Linked DNA regions of Homo sapiens. The protein of the gene in region 4 interacts with the protein of the main gene of each other region in a pairwise test. Each region holds a gene or a part of one and is shown on either strand. Other genes may lie near its edges. The genes, in order: EFHC2, PHF10, PAICS and L3MBTL2.

Evidence for each region.
Region 1: the proteins of L3MBTL2 (region 4) and EFHC2 interact in binary tests that used the Homo sapiens proteins (3 or more experiments, as listed by UniProt).
Region 2: the proteins of L3MBTL2 (region 4) and PHF10 interact in binary tests that used the Homo sapiens proteins (3 or more experiments, as listed by UniProt).
Region 3: the proteins of L3MBTL2 (region 4) and PAICS interact in binary tests that used the Homo sapiens proteins (3 or more experiments, as listed by UniProt).

What each region holds. Positions count from the first base shown.
Region 1 is NC_000023.11:44,172,651-44,179,673, forward strand, and holds part of EFHC2 (EF-hand domain-containing family member C2), read right to left. Parts: intron 5,915-7,023; coding exon 5,717-5,914; intron 5,559-5,716; coding exon of another isoform or gene 5,557-5,558; intron 3,735-5,556; coding exon 3,642-3,734; intron 1-3,641. UniProt on the Homo sapiens protein: Microtubule inner protein (MIP) part of the dynein-decorated doublet microtubules (DMTs) in cilia axoneme, which is required for motile cilia beating.
Region 2 is NC_000006.12:169,714,493-169,721,515, forward strand, and holds part of PHF10 (PHD finger protein 10), read right to left. Parts: intron 6,620-7,023; coding exon 6,513-6,619; intron 4,427-6,512; coding exon 4,296-4,426; intron 3,415-4,295; coding exon 3,331-3,414; intron 1,597-3,330; coding exon 1,463-1,596; intron 1,366-1,462; coding exon 1,216-1,365; intron 351-1,215; coding exon 241-350; intron 1-240. UniProt on the Homo sapiens protein: Involved in transcription activity regulation by chromatin remodeling. Belongs to the neural progenitors-specific chromatin remodeling complex (npBAF complex) and is required for the proliferation of neural progenitors.
Region 3 is NC_000004.12:56,431,359-56,439,272, reverse strand, and holds the start of PAICS (bifunctional phosphoribosylaminoimidazole carboxylase/phosphoribosylaminoimidazole succinocarboxamide synthetase), read right to left. Parts: upstream 3,014-7,914; 5' UTR 3,012-3,013; coding exon of another isoform or gene 2,961-3,011; coding exon 2,945-2,960; intron 1-2,944. Other genes in the region: PPAT (amidophosphoribosyltransferase), read left to right, coding at 3,796-3,923. UniProt on the Homo sapiens protein: Bifunctional phosphoribosylaminoimidazole carboxylase and phosphoribosylaminoimidazole succinocarboxamide synthetase catalyzing two reactions of the de novo purine biosynthetic pathway.
Region 4 is NC_000022.11:41,201,137-41,208,319, reverse strand, and holds the start of L3MBTL2 (lethal(3)malignant brain tumor-like protein 2), read right to left. Parts: upstream 3,009-7,183; 5' UTR 2,958-3,008; coding exon 2,934-2,957; intron 1-2,933. UniProt on the Homo sapiens protein: Putative Polycomb group (PcG) protein. PcG proteins maintain the transcriptionally repressive state of genes, probably via a modification of chromatin, rendering it heritably changed in its expressibility.

The DNA.
Region 1 (7,023 bases), on a different chromosome or scaffold from region 4:
TTCCATTAGAGGCTCATCTTGGCCTGGAGCACAGTCTTTCAGTGAGAGACTCTCAGAGTTTATACTTATGAAATGAGGAATAATGCCTACTGCCAATTAAAATGTACCTTTTAATATGCTCAAAAATTTACAAAATATTCTAAGGCCCTTAGCACTACATCAATACAAAGTATCACTCCTATTATTAATGGATAATCGCTACCACTATATAGAACATTTAAGTCTGATGCTCTGTGCATTAATGAAATGAATTTGCTTGGTAAGTAAGGTGACCTTATACCAGCTCCCACAGCACAAACTGACAGGGGCTGAGGTAACCAGGTACAAAAAGGTTTTGAAGTCCTGATTCCAGTTTGAGTTATGTTAACATAATAAGGAAAAGATCAAGCTGAATTATAAGAAAAATGGGAATGGAGTAGAAGGAAAATCCTGGTACCAAAATATAGGGTTAGGAGAAATACATGGGTAACAATTACTGGGTGAAAGAAAGCATCCAACCCTTTAGCCATATTGTTTTTCATCTCCTGATCTGAATTTACACAGCAGGGTTACACGGCTGCTCAGCAGCTGCCCAGCTCCATTCCAAGGCAGGTAAAACTATTCCTGGGCAAGAGCATGCATTGAACAAAATCAACAAGCTCCATGCCTGCCTCCCACGGGAGACTGTAGACGTCAGAGGGGGCTCTGGCTTAGCGTGCCATAAGGAGGGCTGTGCAGAAAGAGACTCTGGTCAGGGCTCTGTAAAGCCCTGTGGAGTCTGTGGGGAACAATAAGAATGCAGAATATAAATGTAAGCTGCAGGCTGATGGGCCCATTAGGAATTAGGGCAGTCTTTGAAAGGAATCTGCAGAGATGATGCAAAACACTAAGCATGTGACCCAAATCATGGCAGGGCATATTGGAGGGAGAGGGGAATGGGAATGAGACATTTTCTAATCTGATTAGTCTGAAGTTTCCCCTGAGTGTGGAGAAGGGTCACTGCACAATTAGAGGCAAAGTTAGACTGAACATGGTCTGCTTAGCAGCTGAGCGGGATGACCTCCTCAAAGCTAAGCTGGGCTTGGAGACAGATGTGTTCAGAGACTGAGATGACTTCGAAGCAAGTTCTGAAACAATCTTTTTGCATTTAATGTCAAATCGTAAAGGCAAAGACAAAACAGTCTGCTGAGAGAATGAGAGGATGATGACTTGGTGGCCTCAGCACTGGATAAGAAACATGTAGGTCCTCCAGAGGCCAGGCTCCCACATTACTGGACTTTCCAGGACAACTCATCCTTAAGACCATCAAAAGATAATCTAATAAACATCCACAGCTTCCTGACTAGAAGACAGCTTAATGTGTGAAAGGCATTCAGATCCAATTGTTGAAAAACATGGCTTCCTCTACATAGAAAGACACAGGTTTCTTCCAGTTCATTTCTAAGTCTGAGTGTGTGGTCTATGGTCCCTGACTTAAATTTCTCTCCTAGTCCTCAATCAATTCTTTGCACCAGGTACTGTGCTGGGTACTTTATGTATGTTATCTCAATTAATCCTCTGAACCACTAGGAAATAGGTACTGTTACGTCATTCGAGAGATAAGGAATCTGAGGTTCAGGCAGGTCAAAACCCTTGCACAAGATCACACAGCTAATAAGTGGACTCAAAGAATTTAAGAGATGGGAGTGGAGGAGGGGGGTAAAATTGTCAGGATGTGACAACCCATTGGTTATTTATAGGTGGTAAATCACACAGAAGCAGTGTCTGCATCTGAATGAATCGAAGTTCAAGTCACAACTCTTCATTCCAAGGTAAGGGATAAAGAGACACATAAATAGCACTGTGAGAATTCTGAGCAGGAGATAATCACTCTGATTATCAGCCAAACGAATGCAACAGAGCTTCATGGATATGGTGCCACTTGAAATGGGTCTTGAAGGAAGAGCAAGCTTTCAGCAAGTGAAAACCATTGGGAGCTATTGCCTACTGATGAAATAGCAAGGGAAAAGGCCAAAAAAAAAAGGGGGGGGGAGGGGGAAGGCAGGAGGTATATGTGTAATATGCTAAACGGCCCATGTGGCTGGACTACTGGGAACAGGAAGGGGAGTTTTGGGAGTGGGGGATGATATCTGTGAAGAACTCTGAGTCCAAGGCCTGCCTACTTCATCTCAGTTCCTTCACGGCAGGATCCCTCACACGGCTGCTAGCAAATAAAAGCAAATAGAGTTAAACAAAAACAAAATCAAAACAAAACAAATAGAACTGATAATCTAGAAAATTATTCCAGGTTGATTCAATGCACATACACATCCAACTAGATTTGCCCTCTTCTGGGTTTCCCTCCTGATACCTTGGACCCTAGTTCCCTGACATAGAATTTGGCTTTATCTGTTCCTTTGGTTTCTCCTTTTGTCTCAAACAAGGACTCCCTACTTCAGACCCTATTTGAGAACAATGCTCCAGCTGCGAACCCTAAGCCCCACTATGGAGAAGGAGCTTAATTCAAAGTTAAAGAGCTGGTCCTTCCTTAGAGAGCAAAGAGACACCACAGAAGGTTTGTGAGTAAAAGTGCAATAAGATGACATACATTTTTGCTCTTAGAAGGTACTTAGCTGCTATATGTAAAGATGGATTTAAACATTTAGACACTGGTGGATGAAAGACCAATGTGGTGGCACCGCAGTATTTAAGAAGCAATGTGGGTCAGAACAAGAATGATGATAGTGGAAATGGAGAGGAGAGAGTAGAAGCAAGCAGTAAGGAGGAGGTAGAACTGTCAAGACATCCTAATCTACTGGCTATTTGTAGACAGTAACTCAAAATGATTAGAAGCAGAGGATGTGCATTTGAAAAGTTCAGGATTCAAATCAGAGCTCTTCTTCTTCTACACTATGTGACTTTGGGCAAAATACCTCATCTCTCTAAACCTCAGCATCCTTACGTATGAGATAAGAAGGATAACAGTTTCGACCTCACCAAGCTGTTCTCAAAAAGTAAATGAGATAATATATCCAAAACAATGATCACAATGCCTAGAACACAGCTGAAAATGTCAGAATTATCAAGATATATAAGTCAGAGGAGGAGCTAGAGTGAGTGATGCTATAGGAAGCATAAGAGATGGCCAGAGTCTAGGTGGCTGAGAGGGACATGCCAGGAAATCAAAAGTCAGGTTCAACAGGAGAACTGATGTGTTTTAGAAAGCAGTTCACCATGCTCTCATTTTATAGCATCATAATCTCTATGTTTTACATCTGGTGCTCTATCAGGACAGAGCCCCATGCTAATAACCCTAGGTTCTCTTACTGCATGTCTATAGCTATCAGGAACTGCTGCTTTGAAAAACCTGCCCTGAATTTTACATCTAATGTCCTCCTAACCAACAAAGTTGTGTATTTCATTTTGTCCCAGGAATCTGTGGATCTATAAGTGTGTATTCATGTTAAAAAGATAAAATAATAATTTGTAATAGGCTCTCTAACATTCAAAATCAAGACAAACTTTTCCTTCTGTAACACTTAAATGGAGGCAGGTCACCAATAATATAATCAAAACAGTTAAGGGTAAATCAAGGGTAATTAAAGGGAGATGTAAAACCAGGAATGGTCCCCCAAATAAAACTATGCAGGACAATCCCTATCAAGAGTGGAACTCTAACTTACCTTGACAATAAGGATTCTAGAAGATCATCACTCAAAGGTAATCTGGAGGATTTGCACAGCCTTTTAATGTCTTTGGTGGGTAATACATTTTTTCTGCATTAAAACAACGTAAATGAGCTTTTATATACCTTGTATACCTTTAGTAATAATTACATACTATAGGAAAGAAAATACATTTGTGATGTTTCCTGAGAATGTACACATGGAAGTATGAAAATTGGTATTGGAATTCACAATAAGGAAGAACAGTCACATTTCATTTCATCAACTTTTTCTATTTCAGAGGCCACCAGACTCCATCCTTACAAAGGCTTTTCCTTCAAGATGCAGATTCTTGGTTGGTGACAGTACAGCCTATTAAGGCTACAGCCACAAGTGTTGCTCTAAGTAATTGATCTGCATTCTTGACCACTAGTCAAAAATGGTTCTGATATTTGAAAACATCTCTTAATTTGACAGGCATCTAGAGCCTCCAACACAAGTATGATATGACTTGAGGGTGTTTTTCTGTTCTTTTCCTTGGACCCAAACCTTATCACCTGGAAGCCCCAGCTGGGGCCTCAATATTCACTTCAATTTTTTCAGATGCTAGCAGTTTTCTCTAGAGCAGCCCAAAAGTCATTTTCTCCAGTCTTATGGGGGCAAAGACATTCTTGTCCAATGTTCTCATTCAGCCAACACTTTTCCAGGCATCGGGCAAAATTAGAACCAACAGGAAAGAAAGTTGGCTCTTTTCTTTGCAATGAGAATGTTTATATCTAGAATCAAAGCTTGATGGATCTGGAAGAACCTCAGGCTATCTGGTCAAGCAGCCCCATTGTTCCTAAGAAGTGTTCCTTGAATGAAGGAGGGCCACACTTCTCACTCTGGGGAAGGGGGCAACACCAGGGTGGAAGGCAGGGCCAGGGCCATGCAAAACTCAGGCCACACATCTTCTAGGAAGCTTGGGAAAGCTTAAAGAGTCAAGGAAAAATACCATCTTTATAAAAACTCAAAGAGGATGCATTATGGATTAATAAAAAAAATGATTATTTCTAAGACAAACTATGGGACCTACACAGATATTCAGGGAATGCAGTTGGCCACTTGGGTTCAGACTTCAAGTTTGGGGATAAGGCAAGAAGTCACAAGGAAGAGAGATGGCAGTGGTGTGCAGCAATACGGATTAGAAGCTAGAGCAAGAACTAAGATTTTTCTAATTCCAGATGAAATCAGTAAATTTATATTTCTCCCCACTGTATAAGGTCTGTAAGATGAATGCAAAAAAAACACATTAAGTTGTTTGCATCCAGTTGTATGTAACAATGACTTAATGAAGCTCAACACGCACACAATCAATGTATAAGAAATAGCTTATACTGAACTTCATTATTTTCAAGAAGAAATAATTTCAAAGAAATTCTACAGAATGTTTGCTTGAAAATTCCATTTTCTATTTATTATAAAAGTTACATTTATAAATCCCCATCAGTACTAAAATAATGTAAAAAGACGACATCTCAGAATTAACCCTCCTAACATTTTGATTTACTATGCTTCAGTTGAAAGCTTCTAGAAACAAATGAAAAGAACATGCAAGGGAGAAGCCTATTCTTTCAAAGATACAGGGCCTCCCCTATTCCGTCAACAAGACTAGCCTGGCCAACATGGTGAAACCCTGTCTCTACTAAAAATACAAAAAAAAAAAAAATTAGCTGGGTGCGGTGGTGCGAGCCTGTAGTCCCAACTACTCAGGAGGCTGAGGCAGGAGACTCTCTTGAACCTGGGAGGTGGAGGTTGCAGTGAGCCGAGGTTGCGCCACTGCACTCTAGCCTGGGCGACAGGGCCAGATGCCATATCACACACACACACACACACACACACACACACACACACACAAGCTCTCCATCACTGGGAAATATCTGTACCTAAATACTTCTCCGAAAATGATTTAAGGTGTTTGTGCTAAATAGTAGAGTATGAGTATGATGACACATGTCTATTTTCTTTTTGCACTTTTTGATAAAATAGAAATTCCTTCATTACTCAGGTTCACAGAAATGTAAATGATTAGAATCAATAAAACAAAAGCTTACTTTTCTCGATCTTCATACACACAGGAATAAATGAAAGTGTCGAAATTCTCAAACATATTTTTCTTGAACTTTTCGTGGGCCAGTGCGATTAAGAAATCCATATCTGAACATGTGCCCTCAGGCACACGGTAGTGACGTGCAATGGTTACAAATTCTTGCTCTGCAAGGTTTCCAACAGTCAAAGACATCAATATGTCTCTGTAATAAAAATGGAAAAACATTTATAAACTGATATCTAAGAATACAGTATTTTACATCTCCTTCTATTTAAAAGATCCAAATTCCATTTTACAAAACTTTTACCAACTGTACAGAGGTCATGTGATTTTTTTAACTTAATTTCTCTTCTTAATTTGGGAGCAGCAGGAAGGCACCAATGCCAGAATGGAAAATCATAGGCACTGTAGCTTATAAATAAAATGGCATTTTGCCCAGAGTTAAACACCTACCAAATAACAGCCTGCAACCAGGAAGTAAATTTTTAAAGGCTTTGAATGGTCAAAAAACCTATTACTAAGTACATGACTTTATTCAATGCCTATTAATCTTCCTTACACAAAATAGTAACAGGCTTGGGTTTCTGGTTTCCTGGGACATAAAATTTGTAAGTTAATAAATTAGAAAGGTGTTTTGGGATGGGGAAAGCAATCATGCACATTTCTGTAATAAAAAGTAAAACTGGACACACCCTGGCAGTGAGAAAAAAAAACAAGAGAAAAAAAAATGAAAAGTTAAAAGACCTATGTAAGCGTACAGCTGTCTGCATCTTTAGAAGGCAAATGGTACTGAGATTATTAGGCAGAGCTAAAAAAAAAAAACTAAACAACAACATATCAATGAAGACGACTCAAGGCCTAGCAAATTGGCTGAATTGTTTTCAATGTAACTCTGTATGAAAGCCATAAACTAAGCAGCATACACCAGACAGAATTATATCAAAATGATTAAAATGCAAAATGTTATGGTGGTTACAGGAATAAGCTTCCACTGTCTAGAAAATTTATTTACTGGAAATAATTCAGTTCCCAAGAATCCTGAATAAACAAGGGAATAGAAAATTTTATTTGGCCTTCTGCTAGAAAGAGGTCTTTCAGAATAAATGCTTTCAGTTCTTTTAGGTATTTCTGGACATTATCATCTAATAATTCTAGATTCTCCTAGTCAAGAATTTCCATAGAGTCTAGGAAAGCCCACAGCATTGATGTTGACCTATCTAAAGGAAATTCATTTAATCTACATCTACTTCTCAAGTTTCCTGGGTTGTTTTGTTTTGTTTAAATTTGGTTTTGCTTTTGTATTTTTAATGG
Region 2 (7,023 bases), on a different chromosome or scaffold from region 4:
CTCTAACAAACCCAAACAGAATGGGCAGAGACAGAGGCATCTAGACTTCACCAGCATATATTCAAATTCTGACTACAGGGTATTGTTTACCACAGAACCAGAGAAGAATAGCAACACAAATCCTATACGATATCTTACGGTGATATCTATAGACCCCAAAATTGTTAGGAGGCAAGTACAAAAGGCTCTGAAACCCCTTACCAATAGCCGATACCAACTGTAACTAAAACTACTAAATACCTCTTATAATATTCCTGGAACTGTCCGGGGATGAGAGCCACTGGGTAAGAACTGACCTTTGTTCGCTCTGTTGGCAAAACTTTGTACTTCCCTTGAGGTACCTGGATAACCTACGTTAACATAAAGAGAAACACAAAACTGATTCCATGCTAAGAATCAAGGCTTTAGGAAGAGTCCCCACGTGCTCACCACTGCACGCCCACTTCCCCCTCGAAAAGCTAAAATTTTAGGAGATATCAGGAGCTATAACCTAAGAGGACAGTTGGTGCTTTCAGTTCTATATATTATTGTTTTAAAGGCCTATTCTCCTGAGGAATGGCAGTGGATCTCTTGCTCACTACTTAACAGCAGAGTGATCTGGGTAGCTTATACGACCTCTCTGTAGCTCAATTTCTTTATGAAATGGAAGTAATCCTAGTTCCAACCTCACATGGTTACTATGAGAATTAACATGCAAATCTCTTAAAAACTCTTGGGACGCACAGCAAGTATGATATGTAGCTATTATTAGTCTCATTTAGAATTATTAACCGTAAAGCAAAAGACATCTCACAAAAAAATGTAAATTGAGTATTATTAAGCACACCATTAAAAATAACATCTCAACTTCTGAGGAAAAAAAGAACACGCAGGTGTCAGCATGGCCAACATGGTAAAACACCATCTCTACTAAAAATACAAAAAATTAGCTGGGTGTGGTGGCAGGCGCCTGTAATCCCAGCTAATGGGGAGGCTGAGGCAGAAGCATCGCCTGAACCCGGGAGGCGGAGGTTGCAGTGAGCCGAGATCATGCCACTGCACTCCATCCTGGGCTACACAGACTCTGCCACAAAAAACAAAACAAAACAAACAAACAAACAAAAAAAACACACACACATAGGTGGTACAAAAAATAACGATAAAGGGGGTGATGGGCACTCTGCAATAACAAGTAATAAACTAAGTTCAGGGGGTACTAAATTTAAGTTATCCTACATGTGTCTGCAAGTCAAAATAAGCTCTTCTTTCTTCCATGCGTTCCCGGTTTAAGTTGCTATTAAATTCTGCTGCTTTTTTGGCAGCTTTCTTAATATACTCAGGCACTTTACTGGCTTCAACTTTCTGAGTATTCTGTTGTTGCATTTGCTGGAAAAAAAAAATACAGTTGGAAGTCACATATAACTTTCTAAAATGTCATTTTCCCCAACCCAAATAAAAAATGCCAGTCACCTCAATTACTTACGGAATACTCTTTATAATGGTCTGTAATTCGTTGACGTTCTTTTTCTTGTAGAATAACAGAATACTCAGCATGTTTGGCTGGATATTCTTTTATCATTAAATCAATCACTTCATCACTGCGCAATGCTGTTAAGCCTATTTTAGACCAAAAAATAAAAAAATAAAGAAGCTCTTTTAAGGATAAGTGAACAAAAGCACTCTTCAAAATTTAATTCTTCAAACCGCTCCACGTTGTAATGGTTTTCCAATAGCCAAAGCAAAATATCTTAGTACATTTGAAAATAATTAAACTTAATATTCACAATATAAACTCGAGCAATCAAAAGATTATCTTGCAAAAGGCAAATATATCAATTTTTCAACCAAACAAGTTTATTTTTAAGATTCTATGTGCTTTGAACATATATCCCTTTAGTTGGAAACAACTGTTAAATAATGAAATGCACTAACTACTAACAAGTACTACAGAATACTAGATGAATAAAAAAAAATTCAACATATTATAGTTCCCAGTCTTCAAATTCCATACACAAGAAATATTACAATCAATTAAAATTTCACCAAAAACATCAGCACACACACACACACCATGGAGACAATTTTCAAAACTCACAGTATCAGATTTCACCAATTGCTAAAATGCATTCCCAAGAATTTATATAAAAAGTAGCCATGTTGCATTAAAATGTTTGTGAAAAAAAGATTACAAATAAAGCACGGACATAATTATACAGAACTAAAAATTGAAGAAAATTTGCCTTTTTGCATTTTAGAGATGTGGTCTCGCCATCTTGCCCAGGCTGGAGTGCAGTGGCTATTCACAGACATGATCACAGCACACTACAACCCCAAAGTCCTGTGTTCCAGTGATCCTCCTCCCTCAGCCTCCCAAGTAGCTGGGACCACACGCACACACCATGCACTTAGCAAAGAACCTGCAACTTAAAAAAATATATTGTACAAGCTTTGTACAAAAAATACAAACACTCTGAAAACTCTGTAAAAATTATTAGACAAGGGCTGGGCATGGTGGCTCATGCCTGTAATCCCAGCACTTTGGGAGACCAAGGTGGGTGGATCACAAGGTCAGAAGTTGGAGACCAGCCTGGCCAACATGGTAAAACCCCGTCTCTAATAAAAATACAAAAATTAGATGGCTGTGATGACATGCGCCTGTAGTACCAGCTACTCGGTAGGCTGAGGGAGAATTCCTTGAACCCGGGAGATGGAGGTTGCAGTGAGCTAAGATCGCGCCACTGCATGCCAGCCTGGACAACAGAGAGAGACTCTGTGTTAAAAAAAAGAGAAAAATTAGACAATTATACTCTGTTATAGAATAGAGGTTGATCCTTGACTTGCAATGGGGTTACATATGATAAACCCATCCTAAGTTGAAACTATCCTAAAAAGTAAAAGCATTTAATACATCTAGCCTACCAAACATCTTTGCTTACCCTAGCCTAACTTAAACATGCTCAGAAAACTTACATTAGCCTACAGCTGGGCAAAATCAGCTAACACAAATTTTAATATAAAGTGTTGAATATGTCATGTGACTTGTTACATATTATACTGCAAGTGAAAAGAATAATGGTTGTATAGACACTTGAAGTATGGTTTCTACTGAATATGCATTGCTTTCACACCATCATGAAGCTGAACCATCATAAGTCAGGAACCACATGTGTGTTCAAGCTTCATTCTCCTGTGTATTTTAACAATAATCAAAAATGAAGTAAATAATGTAGCATTTAAATAGTTCAATTTATTTTATTAATTTTGTAAAATATTTTAGGAAATAAGATACTTATCTAGTATTATCTCATAAATGTTCAGCTTGAAAAATTCACATTAAAAAGCTATTCTTACCTAGAGTGCACTGAGTTTCAGTAATGACATTTAGCTCTCTCAGGTAGAGTTTCTCCTTGTGAGACAAATCTCGTCGCTCTAAATCTCCAAAAAAAAGATCAAAAGACTATTAAAAACAGCAAAACCTTATGCACTTGTAAAACTTTTAAAAGCTTAAAAACCTTGACTTTTTAAAGTATTCATATTACATATTCCAAATATTATTAAAGGGGCTACAAAAAAATTTATAAATTCAAGAAATAAAACTCAGCAAGATACAAAAGTTAGAATAAAATAGGAAATAGAATAATCCAAAGCAAGAAGGTCATATAAATAACTATACTAAACTAGTTCATGAGGAATAGCCTTTCTCAAATTCAGATACGGCTCATATAGCTAACTCTATTCCTTAGATCAAGAAACAATGGTAAAAATCCCAAACTTGACTATAAAATGATTTTTTCTAAAATTTTCCTCAGGAAATTCACCTTTCCCATTTTGCTTTTAAATCAGTTTATGAGCCATAGAAAATATCAATAATGAAGAGTGATGCTGAATGATAGCAGTAAATGAAACACAGCCAGGCGTGGTGGCTCACACCTGTAATCCTAGCAATTCAGGAGGCTGAGGCAGCAGGATAGCTTGAAGCCATGAGTTTGAGACCACGCTGGGCAACATAGCAAGACTTCACATCTCTAAAAAAATAAAAATTAAAAAAATCTGCCACGCGTCGTGGTGCACACCTGTAGTCCCAGATACTTAGAAGGCTGAGGCAGGGAGACAGCTAGCCCAGGAGTGCAAGGCTGCAGTGAGCTATAATCGCACCAGTGCGCTCTAGCCTGGGTTACAGAATGAGACCCTTAGTCTTAAAAAAAAACAGCAAGCACAAGAATATAAAATATAATCTACAGAAAAATTCAGAAGTTGACAGTGTATCATAAAGAATTACTATCAATTATAAATTAATCTATTATATAAACTAGTACCTGGATATTTCCTTTTAAAGGAGGTCACACCCAAATATTCACTGACTTGTTCTTGAAGCATATAGTATTCTCCTGTTTCATCAGGTGGCCATTTGTACTCTATCAAGTTTTCTGCTGGATAGTAACTAAAACTAAGTACAGAAATACATATTATGCATTAAATGTAGCTTTCATTAATTTTTAATCACTTTTATTGAGGATATTTTGAAAACTATTTTAAGTATTTAAATTATTTGCCTCCTATGACTTGACTTCCTGTGTATCAAAGAAAATTACAAAACAGGTACAAGGAATAGAAATAATTATCTGGTCTACCAAGTCAAAAAGGTATGTGAAAATAACATCTTTTATACACTGGGAAGAACGTAGAATCACAATTGCTAAGAACGAAGGCATTTTTAGTTTAAAGGACCTATGAGGGCAAAGCAAGGTGATGATGGTATCAGCTCTGACTTCTTTCTCTTGGGCTTAAAATGCATAGCCAGTATTTCATCCACCCAAAGAATAATCAACTTCTGTCTCTTGTCTACTGTTCAGTGAGTCATAAATAGCTGAGAAAACAGAACTCTTAAAAACCTATTATCTCAGTGCATCATATCATAAACCGTAACTGTTTGTTCTCAGATACTCCACAAACCCAGAAGCAAAGAATGGACCTAGTTTGAAGGTGCCAGGGTATCACAGTCGATCTCCATCCTGAGTAACAGAGTACAGATTTCAGGATATGGGCCAATTCAACCTCTATATTGGACATGGGAAAGTGACACTATGTTATGCATCCATCTATTTAAAAAGTAACCTTCAAAAAGAACAGTGTTCTCAAAAATGGTGCTGGGAAACTGGGTATCCACATGCAAAAGTATAAAATTGGACCTTTACCTCATATCACAACTCAAAATGGATCAACAACCTAAATATAAGAGCTAACTAGAAAACTCTTAGAAGAAAACATAGAAATCTTTCACAACCTTGGATTTGAAGGTAGATTCTTACATATGACACCAAAAGCACAAGCAACAAAAGAAAAAATAGATGAAAAATTTGGGCTTCATCAAAATTAAAAATTTTGTACAGGGACACTATCAAGACAGTGAAAAGACAACCCACAGAACAGGAGAAAATATGTGTAAATCATATTTTTGATGAAGTATTAATATATAAAATATATTTAAAAAGCTCCTACAACAAAAAAAACCCCAAATAAAAAATGGACAAAGAACTTGAATAGACATGTCTCCAAAGAAGCTATACAAATGGCCAAGCAGATGAAAAGATGTTCAATATCAGTAGGCATTATGAAAATGCAAATCAAAATCACAATAAAATATCACTCCACACCTTTTAGGGTAACTATTATTTTAAAAAATGAAAAATAACAAATTGGTGAGAAATATGAAGAAACTGGAAACTGTGAATTGCTGGTAGGAATGTAAATTGGTGTGCAGCCCCTATGGAAAACAGTTTGGCAGCTTCTCAAAAAATTAAACATAGGATTACCATATAATCCAGCTACTCCACTCCTAGATAAACATCCAAAAAAACTGAAAACACAAACTCTGAACACCAATGCTCACTGCAGCATTATTCACCTTGGCCAGAAGGTGGAAACCCAAATGCCCATCAACATCTGAATGGATAAACAAAATCAGTATATACATAAAATGGAGTATTATTCAGCCTTAAAAACAGAAAAAAAGTCTGACATATGCTACAAAGATGAACCTTGAAGATATTCAAAGTTCTAAGAGAAATAAGCCAGCCACAAAAGGACAAATATTTTATGGTTCCACTTATATGAAGTAACTAAGTAGTCGTATTCACGGAAATAGAAAGTAGAATGATGGTTGCAAGGCGCTAAATAGAGGGAGAAAGGGAGGTTATTGCTTAATGGTTATAAAGTTTGGGGTAGTGAAAGTTTTGGAAATGGATGGTGGTAATGGCTGCACAACACTGTGAATGTAACTGATGCCAATGAATTTCACACTTAAAAATTGTTAAAATGATTAATTTTATGTATGTATGTATTTTACTATCATAAAATTGCTTTTTAATTACACTCAGTAGCAAGACCAACTTTGATGGCACATTATAGAACAGGAAGAAAATATTCTACAATTTTTAATAATTGCCTTTGCCAGAGCTGGGGGAAAGGGAAGAGGATGTTAAGGCAAAGAGGAACATCACAAAAAATATTAATAACCGATAAAATGACAGTACCCAAGATCTTGACTTGAAGTTTCACAACTCCTAGAACTATCTCCTGAGCCCATTCGCCTCCTTTTGGATGGCTGGGTCCCATCATTTGAATTATCTTCATTATCATCCTATACATTTAAAAGATTCAAAAATAATAATTAGAGAAAGAATAAAAGAACAGTAAGTCTCAATAAATGAAAGACTGTCTAAGGACAACTAGTCATACAAGTATTAACTTCATATTATAATTAAAAGGGTCCAAGAGTTTGGCATGAGCAAGACCTGGAATAAAATTTAAAACTGATCTTCAATCCAATCCAAATAAGAACATTTTCAATGAACCCGTAAATGCAAATCTGCTTTGGTTTCTGCTCTTCATAAACATATCAAACTGCTGCATCACTCTAGGATTAAAGCAAACTCTCCTACCCAAGCTCAGGGGGAAAAAAATGTATGGATCATTTACAGTTCTCAATTCAACTTGAAGCCGGTTCATAGGACTATTTTAATTGACTACTTTAGGCATTTATGT
Region 3 (7,914 bases), on a different chromosome or scaffold from region 4:
AGAGGGAGACTCCGTCTCAAGAAAAAACAAAAACAAAAAAAACAGTGCCCAGATCAGATAAAGAAATTAACATTTATATATATTAATATGCAGTAAGCCCGGGCAAAGTTTGTATCTAATGCCCCTCCCCTTAATTTAGTTGAATCTGTATTACTTAGTCATTAAAGAGGGAAGGAATTTGAATTAATGGGTAGAAACAACATAAGAAACAACCATACGTGACATACCCTGCAAGTACCAAAATGGTTGCTACAAATTTGTAGATGAATTCTGGAAAGATTGATGAGGACTGAAAATGATTCATGGAATTGAAATTTAAGAGTCTGGGAAAGCACAGAATTTACACAAAGGATAAGAAAATTCTAGGACTCTGCTGTCCAATAAGGCAGCCACTAGAAATGTGGCTATTACAAGTTGAAATGTCATTTGTTAAAATATATACTGCATTCGATATAAAAAATTGTAAAATATCTAAAGAATTTTTCATCTTGACTCCATGTTGAAATGTATTTTGTGTATATAGGGTTAAATAAAATATATTAAAATGGGCTCACGCCTGTAATCCCAGCACTTTGGGAGGCTGAGACAGGCAGATCACTTGAGGTCAGGAGTTTGAGACCAGCTTGGCCAACATGGCAAAACCCTGACTCTACTAAAAAATACAAAAAAAAATTAGCCGGGTGTGGTGGAGTGTGCCTGTAATCCCAGCTACTTGGGGGGCTGAGGCAGGAGAATCACTTGAACCTGGAAAGTGGAGGGTGCAGTGAGCTGAGATCTTGCCACTGCACTCCAGCCTGGGCCACACAGAGCGAGACTCCATTTCAAAAACAAAGCAAAACAAACAAAAAACAACAACAAAAAAAACCTTTTATATATATATATATATATATATATATATATAAACACATTGCACCAGTTTTTTTTATTATTTTACTTTTTAAAATGTGGCTTATAGAAGACAAATTTACATTATATTTCCATTAGCCAGCAATGTTCTGGGAAAAATAATATAAATAAAATGTATATAATGAAAAACAAACTTTGGTGAATTAACCTGACTGGAACATAGCTAAGGATTCACAGGAGAGAAAAATCAAAGTTAGGGCTGAAGAGGTAGAAGGGATAGCAGTATTCAGGATTTGAATGAAAAGGGATTTCAGACTGGACAGACTGGATTTAACATCTCTAGAGATGCCATTTTTGCCTTTGTTGCCACTTTTGCCTTTTAGAGACCATAAAAGTGACATTTAAGAAAAATCAACCTGCCAACGGTACACAAATGGAAAGAAGTGGAAGAGCAAAGATTTTAGAGATTTGCCATTTTAGAGGTACAGGTACCATGATTGCAAGAAAAATTCTGGTCCTTGCCTTGATTCTAGGGAGTTGATACTCAATATCATCTGAATCTTTTTTGCTGAGTCTACAGCTTTTTTTTTTTTTTTTTTTTTTTTTTGAGACAGAGTCTCTCTCTGTCGCCAGGCTGGAGTGCAGTGGCGCGATCCCGGCTCACTGCAGCCTCTGACTCCCCGGTTCAAGTGATTCTCCTGCCTCAGGTTCCCGAGTAGCTAGGATTACAGGCATACGCCACCACGTCCAGCAAATTTTTGCATTTTTAGTAGAGCCGGGGTTTCACCATGTTGGTCAGGATGATCTCGATCTCCTGACCTCGTGATCCGCCCGCCTGGGACTCCCAAAGTGCTGGGGATTACAGGCGTGAGCCACAGCGCCCGGCCTGAGTCTACAGCTTTTTAAAATCTGAATTCAGTTACTTTCTATGTGGAAAAGAATGTACCCAGCAGCCACAAAAGCAATTTGCCTCACTATACATATAGCAACTGGGTGTGTGGAAAAAACCAGCATTTGTTTTTTTCCAGCATAAATAGCAAGAACAATCTTTCCTGATAGTGCAACTTTTTTGCCTAAAGGTTTTGGAGTTCTTCAAAGCCATCGTGGCATCAAAGACTACTGGAACGAACACACACACACACACACACACACACACACACACACACACACCATCATGGCATCAAAGACTACCTAAAAACAGCCCCCCTCCCCAGCCATCATGGAATCAGACTACTTCAACACGCGCGCGCACACACATACACACCCATGACATCAAAGACTACTTAAACACGCACACGCACGTACACACACCCCAAGCTATCGTGGCATCAAAGACTACTTCACGCGCGCGTGCACACACACACACACACCATGGCATCAAAGACTACTTACACACACGCCCCCTAGACAGGTTTTTCTTTTTCTTTTTTGAGACGGAGTCTCGCTTTGTCGCCCAGGCTGGAGTGCAATGGCGCGATCTCGGCTCACTGCAACCTCCGCCTCCGGGTTCAAGCGATTCTCCTACCTCAGCCTCCTGAGTAGCTGGGGATTACAGGCGCGCGCCACCACGTCCAGCTAATTTTTTGTATTTTTAGTAAGAGACGGGGTTTCGCCATGTTGGCCAGGCTGGTCTCGTACTACTGACCTCAGGTGATCCGCCCGCCTTGGCCTCCCAAAGTGCTGGGATTACAGGCGTGAGCCACCAGGCCCGGCCTCTAGACAGGTCTTTCAAAAGTTTCAATTATTAACCTTCTTAGAAAGGTCATTAACCTAACGGGCAAAGCAAGACTCAGGTTTTGACGAATCAAGACTGATTTGCTTGTATTTTGCAATAGCTATTGATTATAAATAATACTTCCAGGCACCTTTCCACCCCTTGGCCATTTCTCGTTCTCCTCTACTTTGCTCCTTCTCCCCATCCCCGAGGCAGTAAAGTTCGGGGAGGCCCGGGAGCGCCTGGGCCACGTGTGCGCCCGCGCGGCTGCCTAGAGGCGCTGCTGCAGGGAGGCGGGACAGAGTTTCGCGGCTCGCACGTGGCCGCGAGCTCACGGCCTGGGGGTCAGGGAGACCGTGAAGGGCCCGGATCCCTGTTACTCACCCTCAGCTGTCGCCATTATCCTAAGTGGGCTGAGGGCTGCGACCGCGCCGGGAAGCGAGGCAGAACTCTAGAAAAGAGGGGTGGTCAGAGAGCTTCGCTGGGCGGGGAAGGAGGCGGGGCCGCGCGACCCTGCGCCACTCTTTTCGAGCTCCGCTACAGCCGCCTAACCCGGAGGGGTATGGGCGGAGACTGAAACGCGGATATCGGACGAAACAACGCCCCACTGGCTTCCCGCCGCGCAGGCGCAGAGACGCGACCCCGCCTCCGGGCCGCCCCGCGCTGGCGCAGTGCCCGGACAGGCGAAAAGTGGCGCGCACTGGCGGCCCCTCCCCACTCTGCGGAAGCTCGCATACCCCGGCCCCTTCTCGGCTGCGGGAGCGACTCAGAAGTTGGAGCGTACCAAGTCTTGACGGCCTGGGGGAAGCATGCAGGGAAGGGCATATGAAGGCTAAATGCTCTGAAAGAGAAATGAGGTTAAGTCCGTTACTCCCATTACGCTACTGTTGGGTGCTGGAAAATAACGGAGATTTCCACGTGCAGCAAATACAGCTTTCCAGGCAGCTCTTAGGGGAAGGCTAGCTCCACCCTACAGCATCCGTGACCCCGCCCCTCAGCCGCGGGACCGCCCCTCCGCCCTCGCTCGTTGGTGGACTCGGAGGGGGAGGAGCAGGGCTGAGCTGGCCACGCCACCTAGGGACAGCGCGCGCCGCCGCAGTAGCTGGGGCCACCCTCGGGAAGGAAGAGCCTGTCGCGAGCGCGAGCTTCTGAGCTCGACGGGCCGAGCTGGCAGCTGGTTGGTGCTTACACCTTGGCCGCAGCGGCAGGTCCTTCCACGTGCTTTCGGCGGCGACATGGAGCTGGAGGAGTTGGGGATCCGAGAGGAATGTGGCGTGTTCGGGTGCATCGCCTCAGGAGAGTGGCCCACGCAGCTGGATGTACCGCATGTGATCACTCTGGGACTCGTGGGGCTGCAGCACCGGTGAGCAACAGGGTGGGGGTGGCGGGGGCGTGCGTCTCCATCTCTCGGAGCCGCTTCCCGCAGTCGGCGTTCTCATGAGCGCCCGAGGGCCCGGGAGGACCGACCTCTCCGACCTAAGCCAGTACCTGCCTGTGGCGTCGACCGGGTTGCCTAGGCGTGCACGAGGGGCACCTCGCTTCCATGAACTTTAGCCTGTCCTGCCCACCCTCCCAGCCACTTATGCCTTTTAGGGGCTCTCTCCCTCCCCGCCCCCCGGTGTGTGCACCCATCCAGAGGCTGGCCAGCTTGTAAACCGCCGGTTTGCTTGGTCTAGCTGGGTCAGGGCTCCTCCCCGACTGCAGGCGGGTTCTAGTCTCCCGGAGCCTGTGGCTGCTCCTGTAATAGGCTAGTGTGGCGTGGCGGCCAGTCCAGGTCCTTCAACACCTAAAGGTTTTCGCGCGGGGCCTCCAACCACCACAAGCTTTTGTTTGCAAGGGCAGAGCTATTGAGCAGATTATGGGTTTGAAAGTAGTTATCGCTATGGGAACTTGAGGATGCTAGACTTCAGACCCAGGGAAAGATGACTAGTTGATGTTGAGAATGACTACTGGTAGTAGATCTCACATAAATTAAATGGAAATAAGCCAACCATAGGGAACAGTGCATCTGGAAAAGATTCATTGGTAGACGTCTTGCCTAATGAATGAAAACGTTGGTAATAACATGACAAAAATTAACTCCCTTCTTCAAAAGGGGGACAGGGGAGTAGTGTCTCTATGCCAAGATCCATACACTTGATTTTGAAAAATTGGGAGATCCTTTCGAGTTAAAAAAAATTACTTTGCTTCGGTGATCTTTCCTTTTCTTACTACCTGACTTAACTGGAAGTTGATATAAATTATTACACTAGGATAAGAAAAACAAACCTGGGTTTGATATTCTTACTGAAAGTATTACAGTTTCCATAAGGCAATACAGTGGTAACAACTTACACTACAGTTAAGGAACTTGGCAATAACACGTAACAGCAAAATGGGTGCAACACGTATAAACGCATTCCAAAAGATTAGCTTTTCCTCCACCAAACTTAAATTAGAAGTATTTTTTGCTGTTTTCATTGTCCCAGGTACTTCAATTTCAGTTTCACATTTTGTGTGTTCCTTGTTTACTAAAGAGCTGAGAATGTGGGAAGCATCAAAAAGAATATTTTTAACTTGCGTAGCTCCAATCTTGGATAATTGTGGGTTGACCATAATAGATTTCTTGTTTTTTTTAAAAAAAGTTTATTGAGAAAATTAGTTACGTAATCCAAGGAGAAAGTAAACTCTTGATTATGTGGTAGTTGTGAGCAACATTAGTTTGTAACATTCTTAGAAACTATGGCCAGGCGCGGTGGCTCACGCCTGTAATCCCAGCACTTTGGGAGGCCGAGGCGGGCGGATCACGAGGTTAAGAGATCGAGACCATCCTGGCCAACATGGTGAAACCCCATCTCTGCTAAAAATACAATTAGCTGGGTGTGGTGATGCGCTCCTGTAGTCCTAGCTACTCCGGAGGCTGAGGCAGGAGAATCGCTTGAACCCGGGAGGCTTAGGTTCCAGAGAGCAGAGATCACGCCACTGCACTCCAGCCTGGGCGACAGAGCGAGACTCCGTCTCAAAAAAAAAAAAACAGTTGTTATTTTGGATACTCTGTCATGGGGGTGAGGGAGAATCTAGAGGTCTTTAGGGTTGCCTGGTGGTCTGTAGAAAATATGTATGAACTGTACTTCACTATATTTACTTTTTTTGCCAAAGTTATTCAAGAAATTTTCATCCCCCTTTCTCCTTCCCTTTAAATGTGTGCCTGAAGAAAAAGAGGCTTTTTTTTTTTTTTAACTTACATGTTAGCACTGGTTGGAGTTTTAGTACCCAGTTTAGGAAAATACTTGGTATTCATGGTTATAGGTTTTTTTTTTCTTTTTTTTTTTTTTTAATGAATACCATTTGATTCCTGGTTACATATATCTGTTTTCTATAGTTGCTTTTCTGTGAAAGAATTGTAAGATTAAATAATACCAGATAAGGGCAATAATGATGTGATTATGTGGTTTTGAGGAACAAATGTATTACTGAAAAACAATTTAACATTTCTCTTGTGTAGGCATAGAATCATTAAGGTGCACAAAGAGGGCTGGTTCTCACCCATAATCAATTCAAAATTTTACATGAGCTAAAGTGCTCATCCTTTGGGAGGACTGATTCTGCTTGGAAGAACAATGACACTCCCTTATGTCTTGGAAATACAATTATCTGCTGCTCGAAACTGATAGATAAGGGCCAGAATAAAACTAAGAACTTTTTCTTTTAGTTTAGTTTTATATATATATATATAAAATACGTGTGTGTATGTATATATGTATATATATATCGTACTCTGAGAAGTGGTGGTCTGTTGCAGAAAGCTCTGTTTTCACTTTCTCACCCTCATTCACTCACTGGTTAGTTTTAAAACAACTGCAAAAAGGTTTGATTGTGTTTTTTTCCTTTTTGATGAAGGAATTTATTTCTTATATATTATCTTCTTGATTTTTTTTTTTTTTTTGAGACAGAGTCTCGCTGTCTCCCAGGCTGGGGTGGAGTTCAGTGGCGCAGTCTCCCCTCACTGCAAGCTCCGCCTCCCGGGTTCACGCCATTCTCCTGCCTCAGCCTCCCGAGTAGCTGGGACTACAGGCGCCCCCCACCACGCCCGGCTAATTTTTTGTATTTTTAGTAGAAACGGGGTTTCACTGTGTTAGCCAGGATGGTCTCGATCTCCTGACCTCGTGATCTGCCCGCCTTGGCCTCCCTTTTTTTTTTTTTTTTTTGAGACAGGGTCTCACTCTGTCACCTAGGCTGGAGTGGAGTGGTATGATCTGGGCTCATTGCAACCTCCGTTTCCCAAGTTCAAGTGATTCTCGTACCTGTCTCCCGAGTAGCTGGGATTACAGGCGCCCGCCACCACACTCAGGTAATTTTTGTATTTTTAGCAGAGACGGGGTTTCACCATGTTGACCAGGCTGGTCTTGAACTCCTGGCCTCAAGTGATCCACCCTCTTCGGTCTCCCAAAGTGCTGAGATTACAGGCGTGAGCCACCATGCCTGGCCAACCTTATCTTTAAGAAGATGGAATCTAGAAGGTGAGATTTCTATCACTTTTGTTTTGTATTTGGTCCAGTTTTTTGTCTTGGGTATAATCTAATCTGAAACATTTAGTCCTGGGGTTAACAGAATACCTGGAAGGTATATTAGCCATTTCATATAAAAATAAATAGAGTATCAATTAGTTAAGCCAGTCATGCACTGGATATTTAACCCAGATGGGTTCATCCAGATGTACTCCCCGTTTTTAGTAGTTCTGGCTGTCTTCAGATTTATTCCGTAGCTCTGCTTTCTGTAGGGGAATTTTCACATGTCCTCTTAGCTGTAAACTGTGCATGCATGTGTGTGGGTATGTTCATGCCTGATTTATATAATCACCAAATGCTGTTTTGGTCCTGAAAACATCATTTCAGTAGTTTGCGGAGTTCTGAACAAACCAGACACCCCTTCTTAGAATAAACATTTTCATCTTTAAAACACAGTCACATTTTATGGAGACTAGAATGGCCTGGACATATTTGAAGATTCCATAAAAGGAATTAGTAAATGTCTGTAGATTTATGCCATGAATCAGCTAATTAGCCTTTCCTTGATTAGGAGATAACCATGCCCTTCCATTCAATGAATTATCACTTCTCCTGGTTAGGAATTGAACCTTACAATGACAAACATTTTCATACTTCTAAAAATTTATAAGATTTACCTGATGAAGTTGGGTTTTCTGTCTGCAGAAACATTCTGTAGAATCTTTTGGTTCTGTTATTACGCTTTGAGGAAACTGATTTGTAATGATCTCAGGAGCACTTTTCTTAAGAGATTTAGACACTGGTTCTGCAAACAGAGTACAGAACATTACCACTGGAAAGGCACTTGTGAGAATGAGAGATGCACTC
Region 4 (7,183 bases):
CATCTCTACAAAAGAAAAAAAAATTAGCCAGGTGTGGTGGCATGCGCCTGTAGTCCCAGCTTCTTGGAGCTGAGGTGGAAGGACTGCTTGAGCCTGGGAGGTCAAGGCTGTAGTGAGCCATAACCATGCCACTGCAATCCAGCCTGGGCAAGAGAATGACATCCTGTCTCCAAAGAAAAAGAAAAAAAAGCTGGGTGCGGTGGCTCACACCTATAATCCCAGCACTTTGGGTGACCGAGGCGGGCGGATCACTTAAGACCAGGAGTTCAAGACCATCCTGGCCAACATGGTGAAATCCCATCTCTAGTAAAAATACAAAAAATAGCTGGGCATGATGGTGGGTGCCTGAAATCCCAGCTACTCGGGAGGCTGAGGCAGGAGAATCACTTGAACCCAGGAGTTGGAGGTTGCAGTGAGCCGAGATTGCACCACTGCCCTCCAGCCTGGGCAACAGAGTGAGACTCCTTCTCAAAAAAAAAAAGCTGGGTGGTGGTGGCATGCACCTGTGGCTCTAGCTACTCAGAAGGCTGAGGTGGGAAGACAGCTTGAGCCTGGGAGGTCAAGGCTGCACTGAATCATGATCACACCATTGCACTCCAGCCTGGATGACAGAGGGAAGACACTGTCTCAAAGGAAAAAAAAGGTGTGAAGAAAGGAGAAAAGTTTGGCCTCTGGTCCAGAGCTCAAATATCTCTAGTGCTTACTCGCTGTATGACCTGCAGCAAGTCAATTTTGCAGTGCTTCAGTTTCCACATCTGTACAATGAGGATAGTACCACCTATTTCATAGGGTTTGGGGGCTGGCCATGGTGGCTCATGCCTGTAATCCCAGCACTTTGGGAGGCCGAGACAGGAGGATTGCTTGAGCCTAGGAGTTCAAGACCAGACTGGGCAACATAGGGAAACCCTGTCTCTATAAAAAATGGAAAAAATTAGCTGGGTGTTTTGGTTAGGGAGGCTGAGGTGGGAGGAACTCTTGAGCCAGGGAGGTCAAGGCTGCAGTTAGCTATGACTGCACCACTGCACTCCAGCCTGGGTGACAGAGAGCAACCCTGTTTCAAAAAAAAAAAAAAAAAAAAAAAAAGGATTTGGGGGAGAAGTAAGAGACGATACAGGCAAAGCTCTCAGAATAGTGACTTGCATATAGTAAGTGCTCAATAAAGGTTGCCAATTTTTACTGGTTGAAAGCATAGGCTCTGATTTGCCTGAGTTTGAATCCTGGCTCTAACATTTATTAACTGTGTGATTTTGTGCGTATTTTATCTTGCTGCTGTCATCATTACAAGAGAGGTAATAAGCTTTCTTTAGAGAATTCTTACGAAGATTGAGATAAGATATGTAAAACCTAGTTCTATTTCCAGCAGTCAGTAACAGCTCTAAAAGTGTGACTTGCTATTCTTATTCTCCACATGATTATTCTCGTTTACCCTTGCAGAAAGTTTGAGCTATTCCACCTTATATTTGCAACTACACATGCAAATATGCTAGAAAGGAAGCAATTTTTTTTTTTTTTTGAGACACAGTCTCGCTCTGTCGTCCAGGCTGGAGTGCAGTGGTGCAGTGGCCCGATCTCGGCTCACTGCAAGCTCCGCCTCCCACGTTCACGCCATTCTCCCGCCTCAGCCTCCCGAGTAGCTGGGACTACAGGTGCCTGCCACCACGCCCGGCTAATTTTTTTGTATTTTTAGTAGAGATGGGGTTTCACCATGTTAGCCAGGATGGTCTCGATCTCCTGACCTCGTGATCTGCCCGCCTCGGCCTCCCAAAGTGCTGGGATTACAGGCGTGAGCCACCGCACCCAGCAAGGAAACAATTCAAATATAGGTACCCTTGTCAGGCAGGGTGACAGAGACCACCTATAGTCCCAGCTACTTAGGAGGCTGAGGTGTAAGGATTGCTTGAGCCCAAGAGTTAGAGGCTGCAGTGCGTTGTCATCACGCCTGTGAGTAACCACTGCATTCCAGCCAGGGCAACATAGGAACACCCCGTCTCTTAAATATAAGGTGCCCAGAAACCAAATGATTAAAGGATGAGGCGGGGTGCAGTGGCTCATGCCTGTAATCCCAGCACTTTGGGAGGCCGAGGTGAAGCAGACAGATCACCTGAGGTCAGGAGTTCGAGACCAATCCGACCAACATGGCAAAACCTCGTCTCTACTAAAAATACAAAAATTAGCCGGGTGTGGTGACACATGCCTGTAATCCCAGGAACATGGGAGATGGAGACAGAATTGCTTGAACCCGGGAGACGGAGGTTGCAGTGAGCCGAGATCGCGCCACTGCACTCCAGCCTAGGTGACAGAGCAAGACTCCGTCTGAAAGAAAAAAAAAAAAGGATGAGTGGGTTCCAGGTTGCAGTACAGTGTGAAAAGCATAACAGGCAAAGTTTCAGAGGCGGACAGACTTAGTGCCAATCTCCTTCACTTTCCAGCCGGGGTAACTTCCTGGGGTGTCGCACCACCTCTAAGCCTCAGTGGCTTGAACGACAAAGACGAAAGAATAATACATGATTGCTGTGAGTGTACTGGAAGATAATGCACGTGAACGTTACAGACAAGGAGTGATGTTCACCCAACTTTAATCTCCCTTCACTTCCCACCTCATGTAACAGGCCTCACAAGCCCTAAACAACACAGCCACGAGACAAGCAGGATAAGGAAGATTCAGGAGCTCTCAGATCCTAAACCTAGTTCCCTTTCCCCCAGGCCAGGGACGGCTGTTCCTCCCTGAACTCCTCGCCGAACGTTGGCCCCAGCAGGAGAGGGGCAAAAAGTAACGTCAATTGCCTCTGCCCCTGGCTCAGTTTAACTACCTCAGTTTATCCATCCTCCCACCCTCCACCCTCCAGGCGTCGCTAAAAGCCCTAAAGAAGGGCCCACGGAGCGAGGCTCTCGGAGTTCCCTTTCCCAGTCACGCTAAGTCCTCGCCTTCTCACCTCAATACTCCGGGGCTTCTCCATGAGACCTCAGTTTCGCCAAGCGTCACCAGGTGCAGGAAGCCATATTGGCCTGCCCCGTCGCTCTCCGCGAGAGCACTCATTGGTCGCCTCCCTGAGCCGCGGGCCAATCACGCTGCAGGAAGGAGGAAAAGCCGGTTCCGTGCCTGCTCCCGCCATTCTCTCCCTGTGGGCGGGGAAGCCGCGGGCGGTTATGGGAATTGTAGTTCGCATGTGTGCAGGGTGAGTCGTTACCATAGCGACGTGGAAACCAGGGGCGCTGGAAACCTGGTGCGCCTCACGCCGAGTGTTCCAATTACGCCAACCTCTTGACTTCACTGGATGTTATTCTTCCCTAAACGGTTATTGAGCACCTATGATAGTCACTGTTCCAGACTCCAGGAATAACCTCGTACTCTCCCGGGTTAGATATTTAAGGTGCCCTTTTGCTGGGATGCATAGCAGAGGGACTCATTTCCAACTCAGGCAGAAACTGGACTACTCCAGATTAAAAAGAAAAAAAAAAGGAAGAAACTGGAATACTCTGTGTGTGTGTGTGTGTGTGTGTGTGTGTGTGTGTGTGTGTGTGTGTGTGTTTTCTTGAGACGAAGTCTTGCCCTGTCGCCCAGGCTGGAGTGCCGTGGCGCGATCTCGGTTCACTGCAACCTACGCCTGCCAGGTTCAAGCGATTCTCCTGCCTCAGCCTCCCAAGTAACTGGGACTACAGGCGCCCACCACCAAGCCCGGCTAATTTTTGTATTTTTTAGTAGAGACGGGGTTTCACCAGGCTGGTCTTGAACTCCTGACCTCGGGATCCACCCGCCTCGGCCTCCCAAAGTGCTGGGATTACAGGCGTGAACCACCGCGCCCGGCTGAAACTGGAATATTCTTTTTCTCAATACTGTAAATGTCCAGCCTGCTCAAAATCTTACAACATTCCTCCTTCACCACTCTCTCCTGGGTAAAAACCTCGAATCTGAGGCTCTCTGCCTCATCCCGTTAGGGTTTCCCACAACCTCCTTAGACACCCTGAGTTCTAGGTGCTGTTGTGGAGCTTTGCAAACATCTTTTCAAACCCTTAGACATCCTATCACCGTTTGAAAGAAGAGGAAGTGGTGGCTCTTCACCACTTCAGGTTTAGGCACTTTCCAAGATCACACAGGATTGGGATTCCAAATTTAGTACAGATTCCTTCCCTATGCCATGCCGTGTCCCAGTGAATTAATTGAGACTCTAAATGCAATATGTGGAGGCTGAATACATATAAAATATATGCCTAAATTTGAAGTCCGCCGTGGAGATGTCAAACTCTTCCTAGAGGTCTTTCTTTCCTTCAACCCCTTCCACCCTAAACCCCTGTATCCATGCTGTCAACGTGTTGGTTTTTCTACCTCCAAAATATATCCTGTATTTCCTCCACCACTACCACTCTAATACAAGCCACCGGCCCATTGCAGCAGCCCTTCAACTGGTCACCCTTTCTTTCTTTCTTTTATTGATTGATTGATTGATTGAGATGGAGTCTCCCCTGTCGCCCAGGCTGGAATGCAGTGGGATCTCCACTCACTGCAACCTCCACCTCCTGTGGTCACCCTTTTTAAATCTTCACCTTTAATACACACAGGTGATCTTTAAAACTCATTGACCTGGCCGGGTGCAGTGGATCACGCCTGTAATCCCAGCACTTTGGGAGGCCAAGATGGACAGATCACAAGGTCAGGAGATCGAGACCAGCCTGGCCAAGATGATGAAACCCTATCTCTACTAAAAATACAACTATTAGCTGGGTGTGATGACGGGTGCCTGTAATCCCAGCTACTTGGGAGGCTAAGGCAGGAGAATCGCTTGAACAAGGGAGTCAGAGGTTGCAGTGAGCCGAGATTGCACCACTACACTCCAGCCTGGGCAACAGAGCAAGACTCCATCTCAAAAAATAAAAATAAAAATAAATGTTCTGGAATAAGATAGTGGTGAAAAAAAAAGAAAAAGACAGGTTGGTTCAGCAAGTGCAAAGGCCACATTGGTGGAACAGCAAGTGCAAAGGTCCTGGGGCCAACTCAAGCTTGGTATGCAATAAACAGAAAGACAGAGAGAGTAGATGGATATAGCAAAACATGGAGAGGGTGATACAAGATGAGGTTTGAGAGAAAGCTGAGACCAGGTCATTCAGGGTCTTGTGGAGTGCTTGGATTTTATTCTGTGCAAGGGAACGGCATTAGAGTTTTTTTGTTTGTTTGTTTTTGAGACAGAGTTTCACTCTTGTTGCCCAGGCTTGAGTGCAATGGCGCGATCTCGGCTCATCACAACCTCTGCCTCCCAGGTTCAGGCAATTCTCCTGCCTCAGCCTCCCAAGTAGCTAGGATTACAGGCATGCACCACCACACCTGGCTAATTTTTTTTTTTTTTTTTTGTATTTTTAGTAGAGATGGGGTTTCTCCATGTTGGTCAGGCTGGTCTCGAACTCCCGACCTCAGGTGATTCGCCCACCTGGGCAAATGGTCTTGATCGCCTGACCTCGTGATCCGCCTGCCTTGGCCTCCCAAAGTGCTGGGATCACAGGCCTGAGCCACTGTGCCCAGCTAAAAATTTTTTAAAATTAGCTAAGTGTAGTGGCATGTACCTGTGGTCCCAGATACTCTGGAGGCTGAGGAGGGAGGATTGCTTGAGCCCAGGAGGTTGAGGCTACAGTGAACCATGTTCATGCCACTGCACTCTACCCTGGTGACAGAGAAAAAAAAAAGTTGTCTGGCTGGGCATGGTGGCTCACACCTGTAATCCCAGCACTTTGGGACGCTGAGGCAGGTGGATAACTTGATATCAGGAGTTCTGCCAGACGCGGTGGCTCACGCCTGTAATCCCAGGACTTTGGGAGGCCAAGGTGGGCGGATCACCTGAGGTCAGGAGTTCAAGACCAGCCTGGCCGACATGGTGAAACCCCATCTTTACTAAAAATACAAAAATTAGCCGGGCTTGGTGAGGCATGCCTGTAATCCCAGCAACTCCGGAGGCTGAGGCAGGAGAATCGCTTGAACCTAGGAGGCGGAAGTTGCAGTGAGCTGAGATCGCGCCATTGCACTCCAGCTTGGAAAAAAAACAAAAAAGGAATTCTAGACCACCCTGGCCAACATGGTGAAAACCCTGTGTCAATTAAAAAAAATTACAAAATATTAGCCTGGTGTGGTGGCACAAGCGTATAGTCCCAGCTACTTGGGAGGCTGAGGTGGGTGGATCACTTGAGGTCAGGAGTTTGAGACCAGCCTAGCTAACATGGTGAAACCCCATCTCTACTAAAAATAGAAAAATATTGGCCGGGCACAGTGGCTCATGCCTGTAATCCAAGGACTTTGGAAGGCTGAGGCAGGTGGATCACCTGAGGTCAGGAGTTCGAGACCAGCCTGACCAATATGGTGAAACCCCATCTGTGCTAAAACTACAAAAATTAGCCGGGTGTGGTGACATGCGCCTGTAGTCTCAGCTACTCGGGAGGCTGAGACCGGAGAATTGCTTGAATCAGGGCGGTGGAGGATGCAGTGAGCCGAGATTATGCCACTGTACTCCAGCCTGGGCGACAGAGCAAGATTTTCTCTCAAAAAACAAACAAACAAACAAAAACCAACAACAACAAAAAAGTTGTCTGGGTGGAATAGCACAATGGCAGGGCATAGAGCAGAAGAGGTGAGTTTAAGGGATTTATGTACATAGTTTGGAACAGAAGAGCACGTTTGTGTTGCTATTGGGAGTGATCTAGTAGAGAGAGACAGATCAATGATCCCAGACAGAGGGACAGTGATGCACAGAGGGAGGGCCTTAAAAGAGAGGAGCGTATTAGGTCCACATGTAGAGGGATGAATTAGTCCAGCCAAAAAGGGTACCTTTGCTGCAGGATGAAACCCCTGCCCAGGAGCTCCATAGCAGAAGGAACTGCCACACTGTTACTGTTCTGGGGCGGCCACTATTGCTTAGCAACCTGTGCTTAATAAGATGTTTCAACTGAATTCCTAATAAACGGCCATTTCAACTTACGCCAACGGTTCCTGTCACTGGTGTTCCTGCTCTGCTTATCTCATACGCTGAAACTGGATGCTCAGGTTTTTACTTCCTTGTACTGTTGATGTATGCATTTTTTGCTTTTGTTTTTTTTTTTTCTGGAGACGGAGTTTCGCTCTTGTTGCCCAAGCTAGAGTGCAATGGCGTGATCTCAGCTCACTGCAACGTCTGCTTCCTGGGTTCAAGCGATTCTCCTGCCTCAG